Linked DNA regions of Homo sapiens. The protein of the gene in region 1 interacts with the protein of each later gene in a pairwise test. Each region holds a gene or a part of one and is shown in the gene's direction. Other genes may lie near its edges.

The links.
Region 2: the proteins of TBX21 (region 1) and HOXC11 interact in a two-hybrid assay, tested with the Homo sapiens proteins (one large-scale study listed by BioGRID and IntAct).

The regions. Positions count from the first base shown.
Region 1 is NC_000017.11:47,743,236-47,746,622, forward strand, and holds the end of TBX21 (T-box transcription factor TBX21), read left to right. Parts: intron 1-959; coding exon 960-1,118; intron 1,119-1,246; coding exon 1,247-1,308; intron 1,309-1,512; coding exon 1,513-2,131; 3' UTR 2,132-2,887; downstream 2,888-3,387. UniProt on the Homo sapiens protein: Lineage-defining transcription factor which initiates Th1 lineage development from naive Th precursor cells both by activating Th1 genetic programs and by repressing the opposing Th2 and Th17 genetic programs.
Region 2 is NC_000012.12:53,971,974-53,975,925, forward strand, and holds the start of HOXC11 (homeobox protein Hox-C11), read left to right. Parts: upstream 1-1,152; 5' UTR 1,153-1,268; coding exon 1,269-1,950; intron 1,951-2,924; exon of another isoform or gene 2,925-2,981; intron 2,982-3,207; coding exon 3,208-3,440; 3' UTR 3,441-3,952. UniProt on the Homo sapiens protein: Sequence-specific transcription factor which is part of a developmental regulatory system that provides cells with specific positional identities on the anterior-posterior axis. Binds to a promoter element of the lactase-phlorizin hydrolase gene.

The DNA.
Region 1 (3,387 bases):
CCTGGGTCTGAGACCTCCAAGGCCACAAGGGTCCTGCGGGGCCAGTTTGGTTCATTTTTTCTTCCTTCCTACAGGAAGGAAGGTTCGTTTTTCTTCTGTCCTAAACGAAGGGTCATTTTTCCTCCTTCCTAAACTCTGGCTGTTTCTCACCCACCTTGGGAGGAAGATGAGATGGGATGAAGCTGAATCTTGGACGGGGGTCATATTCAGGCCACACAGGCCAACCCAGCCTCAGGGTTTCTTCACCAAATCATGGGTTGCCATTGCTCCGGCACCATGAAAGGCACAGAGTTGGCCCTGTGGTCCCAGGGAATAGATGCCGAGTTTCTCTAGGTTGAACAATCCTGTTAAAAGTGCCCTTGCTGGCTGGGTGTGGTGGCTCACACCCATAATCCCAGCACTTTGGGAGGCCAAGGCGGGTGGATCACAAGGTCAGGAGTTCAAGACCAGCCTGGCCAAGATGATGAAACCCCGTCTCTACTAAAAATACAAAAATTAGCCAAGCATGGTGGCGGGTGCCTGTAATCCCAGCTACTCAAGAGGCGGAGGCAGGAGAATCGCTTGAACCCGGGAGGCAGAGGTTACAGTGAGCTGAGATCATGCCATTGCACTCCAGCCTGGGTGACAGAGTGAGACTCCGTCTCAAAAAAAAAAAAAAAAGAAAAAAGAAAAAAGAAAAAAAAGTGCCCTTGCCCTAAAGCCCTGTTTGTGCTGATACCTTGGTCTCAATTGACATCTGGAGGTAGAAGAGGGGGCAAGAGGCTAGAATTGGTGCCCCAAAGAGTCCGGACACTGGAGTTGGAAAGCTTGGGGGAAGTTACATGGTGGCAGAGCAGGGGAATGGACAGGATGACCTCAAGGTGCTTGCTAGCCTCACGTGGGGCCAGCTGTTGGTGGGGGTGATGGGATCCTCGAAATCCTTCCTCCCCACCCCTACAACCGTCTTGCTCTGTCTACAGATGATTGTGCTCCAGTCCCTCCATAAGTACCAGCCCCGGCTGCATATCGTTGAGGTGAACGACGGAGAGCCAGAGGCAGCCTGCAACGCTTCCAACACGCATATCTTTACTTTCCAAGAAACCCAGTTCATTGCCGTGACTGCCTACCAGAATGCCGAGGTGAGGGCTGCCTGAGCCCCGGTGGGGAGGAGGGCAGAGTGGGGCCCACTGTCTTCCTTGGGAGGGATTTGGAAAGTTCCCGAGCCCCAGACTCAGGACTCAGGTGACTCTATTTCCCTTCTCTCTAGATTACTCAGCTGAAAATTGATAATAACCCCTTTGCCAAAGGATTCCGGGAGAACTTTGAGTCGTAAGTGCCACTGGGTTCAACTCAGCTTTGGTCCCTCCTGAGACACATCCTCTCCCTGCCCCTGAAAACAGGAGGGTGGGGGACAGATGCTACAGGTGGGCAGGCCAGGGAAGGAGGGTCGGAGAAGGAATGTGTGAAACAGGTAGGCTCACAGGTGACTGGTTCTGCTTGTGACCCGTTTTCTTGCCTTCTATTTTTTTCTAGCATGTACACATCTGTTGACACCAGCATCCCCTCCCCGCCTGGACCCAACTGTCAATTCCTTGGGGGAGATCACTACTCTCCTCTCCTACCCAACCAGTATCCTGTTCCCAGCCGCTTCTACCCCGACCTTCCTGGCCAGGCGAAGGATGTGGTTCCCCAGGCTTACTGGCTGGGGGCCCCCCGGGACCACAGCTATGAGGCTGAGTTTCGAGCAGTCAGCATGAAGCCTGCATTCTTGCCCTCTGCCCCTGGGCCCACCATGTCCTACTACCGAGGCCAGGAGGTCCTGGCACCTGGAGCTGGCTGGCCTGTGGCACCCCAGTACCCTCCCAAGATGGGCCCGGCCAGCTGGTTCCGCCCTATGCGGACTCTGCCCATGGAACCCGGCCCTGGAGGCTCAGAGGGACGGGGACCAGAGGACCAGGGTCCCCCCTTGGTGTGGACTGAGATTGCCCCCATCCGGCCGGAATCCAGTGATTCAGGACTGGGCGAAGGAGACTCTAAGAGGAGGCGCGTGTCCCCCTATCCTTCCAGTGGTGACAGCTCCTCCCCTGCTGGGGCCCCTTCTCCTTTTGATAAGGAAGCTGAAGGACAGTTTTATAACTATTTTCCCAACTGAGCAGATGACATGATGAAAGGAACAGAAACAGTGTTATTAGGTTGGAGGACACCGACTAATTTGGGAAACGGATGAAGGACTGAGAAGGCCCCCGCTCCCTCTGGCCCTTCTCTGTTTAGTAGTTGGTTGGGGAAGTGGGGCTCAAGAAGGATTTTGGGGTTCACCAGATGCTTCCTGGCCCACGATGAAACCTGAGAGGGGTGTCCCCTTGCCCCATCCTCTGCCCTAACTACAGTCGTTTACCTGGTGCTGCGTCTTGCTTTTGGTTTCCAGCTGGAGAAAAGAAGACAAGAAAGTCTTGGGCATGAAGGAGCTTTTTGCATCTAGTGGGTGGGAGGGGTCAGGTGTGGGACATGGGAGCAGGAGACTCCACTTTCTTCCTTTGTACAGTAACTTTCAACCTTTTCGTTGGCATGTGTGTTAATCCCTGATCCAAAAAGAACAAATACACGTATGTTATAACCATCAGCCCGCCAGGGTCAGGGAAAGGACTCACCTGACTTTGGACAGCTGGCCTGGGCTCCCCCTGCTCAAACACAGTGGGGATCAGAGAAAAGGGGCTGGAAAGGGGGGAATGGCCCACATCTCAAGAAGCAAGATATTGTTTGTGGTGGTTGTGTGTGGGTGTGTGTTTTTTCTTTTTCTTTCTTTTTATTTTTTTTGAATGGGGGAGGCTATTTATTGTACTGAGAGTGGTGTCTGGATATATTCCTTTTGTCTTCATCACTTTCTGAAAATAAACATAAAACTGTTGAATGTGCCTGCCTCAGTGCCAGCATGGGGGGACATGGATGGGGACTCAGTTGGGGTTGTACCCAAGCTGGTGTACCCAAGGTGTTCTGTCAGCTTTCATTTATGGGGAACCTGCTAAGACCCTGAAATGACTCCAGCTGAGTTACAGCAAGGCCACATGTCCTACCTTCAGCACTCAGGGGGTTGGTTGATGCTACCTCTTAAGGCATCTTGGGACGGACAGAGAAGAATCCCTTGCCCTGTGTGCACCCTGACATTGAAAGGAGGGGTGTGAGGGCAAGGCCAAGGGCTGGACTGGGAGCGGGGGTGCAGGGCGCTGTGAGGCGGTGGCACTTGATTTTTCTTTGCATTTCTAGCAGCCCTCCACCTTTATCTCTAGGGTTATTCAAGGATTAAAGAAATAAATATAAAATGAGCCATGTGAAATTACCATTTTTGTAGGTCGAAAAGCCAAATATTAGCAATTTTATGTGACTCAAGCTAATACATGTAAAGGGTTTAAG
Region 2 (3,952 bases), on another chromosome or scaffold:
GGGCTTTGACTAGGGAGTGGCCGCTGGGCCTCCCCTGATGCCACAGCATCCACCGCTCCTTTCCACTGTCTGGTTAGTCTCTTCTGGAGACCCATACCTGGCCCCACCACCCACCTTACAGTCCTCAAAATCATCCAAGGATAAGAACCCCAAACCTAGTCCCCCCCACCATATTCTTCCTGGACCCCTACACTAGGCTTCTTTTCAGCGCACTAGCTGAGGCTGAGCCACTAAGCCAAAGGGCCCTGACATAGAAGATACATGGCTCTCATTCCAATCCTTTTCTTTGGGGTTTGGGATTTGAAAATCCACAGTGGATGTAGCTTTCTTCACATTGATTGACAATAAAGGCAGGCATGAAATATTCACCCAGGGCCACTCTCTCATACTAAATATTTAACACAACATTAGAGAAGGTTTTTCCCAGACTTCGCCAGGCACCGGCTGGGCGGCTGGCGCACTGCTCACCACTCGTTTATGACTAATCTGACTCCCTAGCCAGGGGCAGCACAGCAAGCCAGACAAAGTTGGGACACTGGCTTGCAGCTGGGCTGCCTCACCTTTGGGAAACTTCAGATACTCTTCCGGGAGTCTCTCTAAGGACTCCAGAAAGGTAGTCTTGACACCCAGCTCTGGCCAGGAAAAGAGTGGACTTCTTCAAACTCTTGTGAACAGGCGGTGTCTCTGCGGGTTGGAAGGGTAAGAGTCCCTGAGATTTAAGGGAAAGGATTCACTTCTCTGGGGAAATCAGGCAGTGGGGAAAGAAGTCCTCACTCCCACCCTCCTGGTGCTGCTCACAGAGAGGAGGCAAGACCCCCATACATGAGAGCCCTCCTCCTTCCCCCAATCCTGGGGGAAAAAAGAGCAGCAGCTAGAAAAAAATACAATTACCCCTTCCCAGCCACCACCCTCGCCCATCCCACCGCCCACCCCACCCCAACCCTCTCTCTCCTCCTTTGCTCGTGCTGTGGTATGGAGAGAAGGGGAGTGACGAGAGAAAAACGAATACAAATCTGCAATTGATTTTCATAATGTTTCTGCGGTGTTTGCAAACCAATCGCCTGAACGTCCCCGATCTTACCTAAGAGAGAACCCCTCCTACGTCTGCGAAGTGCTCCGAACTGATATATGACAATATCTACTTTGGATCACGTGCTCAGAGAGAGAGAGACTAAGACGGATAACGCGTCATCTCGCCTTCCCAAATTTTCCCCCCTCGCTAGACCGGGTCCAAAACCTCCATCCGGAGCCGGCAGGAGAGGAGAACGATGTTTAACTCGGTCAACCTGGGCAACTTCTGCTCTCCGTCGCGCAAGGAGAGGGGCGCAGATTTCGGCGAGCGAGGGAGCTGCGCCTCCAACCTCTATCTGCCCAGTTGCACTTACTACATGCCCGAGTTCTCCACGGTCTCCTCCTTCCTGCCCCAGGCCCCCTCTCGTCAGATCTCCTATCCCTACTCGGCCCAAGTGCCCCCGGTCCGGGAGGTCTCCTACGGCCTGGAGCCATCCGGCAAGTGGCACCATCGGAACAGCTACTCCTCCTGCTATGCGGCGGCCGACGAGCTTATGCACCGGGAGTGCCTGCCTCCTTCCACCGTCACCGAGATCCTCATGAAAAACGAAGGCTCCTACGGCGGCCACCACCACCCCAGCGCCCCGCACGCAACCCCCGCCGGCTTCTACTCCTCAGTCAACAAGAACAGCGTCCTGCCTCAAGCCTTCGACCGTTTCTTCGACAACGCCTACTGCGGTGGCGGCGACCCGCCCGCCGAGCCCCCCTGCTCCGGCAAGGGCGAGGCCAAGGGGGAGCCCGAGGCACCCCCGGCCTCGGGACTGGCGTCCCGGGCTGAGGCGGGTGCCGAGGCGGAGGCTGAGGAGGAGAACACAAATCCCAGCTCGTCCGGTTCAGCCCACTCCGTGGCCAAGGAGCCGGCCAAAGGAGCCGCCCCCAGTAGGTAGCAGCGGCCGGGGAACGGGCGGGCAGCGAGGGAGGGAGCGAGAGAGGGAGGGCGAGAGAAGGGGGGAGGCAAGGGGAGCGGGGACGGCCTCGTGTTTTGGGTCAGTCCGATTTTATGTGGAGTTTTATAAGCATTCAAAGGATTTTATTATAACCTACAAAGCCCTCTCTCCCAACGACTCGACTTTTTACGATGGAGAAGGGGTGGGGAGGGAGGGAAAAGGGCTCTTTGGAAAAGCCGGGTGAACCCCCCTCCCCCGTTATCTCCCTCGGTCTGTGAAATTTTTAAAAGCGCAACCATTGCGGGCGATATTAACTTTGATCGTGAACTTAGAGGAGCATTTAAGGAAGTATGGGGAGCCGGGCTGCCGAGGAGTGGGGAGGAGGGGAGGGGTGGAGGGGGAGAAAGGGGAGGGCGAGGGAAAGACAGGGAGAGATCCAGAGAGGGGGAGAGGTGGGGGAGAGGAGCAATGGAGCAGAACCTGAGACCGGAGAGGCAAGCCAGGACCGCTATGATCCTTCTTAAAACTAGTTTTGAAAATGTTCAAACTATGTGTTCGCGGGTCCTCGAGCAGAAACCCAAGCAACTCTGGGGTCAGCGGCGACAGGGGAATGGGGCGAGGCGGCGCAGGACTCCACTGCGTTCCAGGCGGGGGTCTGGGCGTTTCTCCCGGGTCCGCGGCCTTAGTGCTTGCCTAGAACTGCGGTGTGGAAGGCGCTGCCCCGCGGGCTTCCCGGGGCGCCAGGGCCCCGGAAGCGGCTCTCTGGTGTCTCGGTGCCTGCTGGCCGGCTTCCTCCCCGCCTCCCGACTGCTCTCGCCAGATTTCACTGCTTCGCGCCTGTTCTCAGCTTTCCCCCCAGATTTCTGGGGGAGGGGTTGGGCTTTCCGAACCACTAGGAGGGCGGCCCAGGAAGGGCCCGAGGGCGGAGGGGGAGCAGACAGGGGGCCCGAGGGGACGCACGTGTACCTGGAGGGCTTTCCTTCTGTCCCAGACCCTGTCAGCCGCGGCTCTCGCCTGAGAACTGGGGACGGGGTGGCGCAGTGGCGGGGGGGTGGGGACCCGCTAGACCTGGCAGGGGGTCGAGGCTTGCCCGGGTGCTGCGGCTGCAGGAGAGCCAGCCGCCTGGCGGGAGGGCTGCCCGCGGTGGGCTAGGAGAAGGGCCGCTGAGCGCTCAGCGGGCTGGGGTCGCCCGGGTCTCACGTGTCTCTCTCCCCCCTCTCCTCGCACTTGCCCCCTCCCCTCCCTCCAGACGCCCCCCGCACCCGCAAGAAGCGCTGCCCTTATTCGAAATTCCAGATCCGGGAACTGGAGCGAGAGTTTTTCTTCAACGTGTATATCAACAAAGAGAAGCGGCTGCAGCTGTCCCGGATGCTGAACCTGACGGACCGACAAGTGAAAATTTGGTTTCAGAACAGAAGGATGAAAGAAAAGAAACTGAGCAGAGACCGGCTGCAGTATTTCTCGGGAAATCCTCTGCTGTAACCTGCAGACCGGGCCCTTTTGGGGGCGGGGGGAGGGGAAAATTATTTTATTTTATTTTTATTTTTTATTTTCTAACTCGTCTTCTTTCCGCCGGTGGAAAACTGGACTGTGGCCAGGGCTGGCCCCCACCGCTGTGGCCGGCACTCCATTCCGGAACCTCCTGGACCCTCTATCTGACTCTCGCTGTGGGACAGGGACCGGGCCTGGAAAGGGGGTGAAGGGAAGTGTCTGATGCACGGCGAGTGAACACCGTTGGCGCCGAGGCCAAGACTTTGATTTAAAAGAAAACACACCTCGGCGACAATGTCTTGCTGCTCGGATTAGGTGGGGGAGGGGCGACAGTAGTGAGCGCCTGAGCCGAACAATCCTCGAACTAAAAGCCTTCCCTTGCCCATGTGAAAAGATCCGCTAAGACAGCATGTCTGCCAGCGGAAACTTCTCGAGCTCCCCCCTCTACCCCGCCCCACCTTGCAGCTAAATGTGATCCTGCCTTGCTGTGAAATTTCTGTACC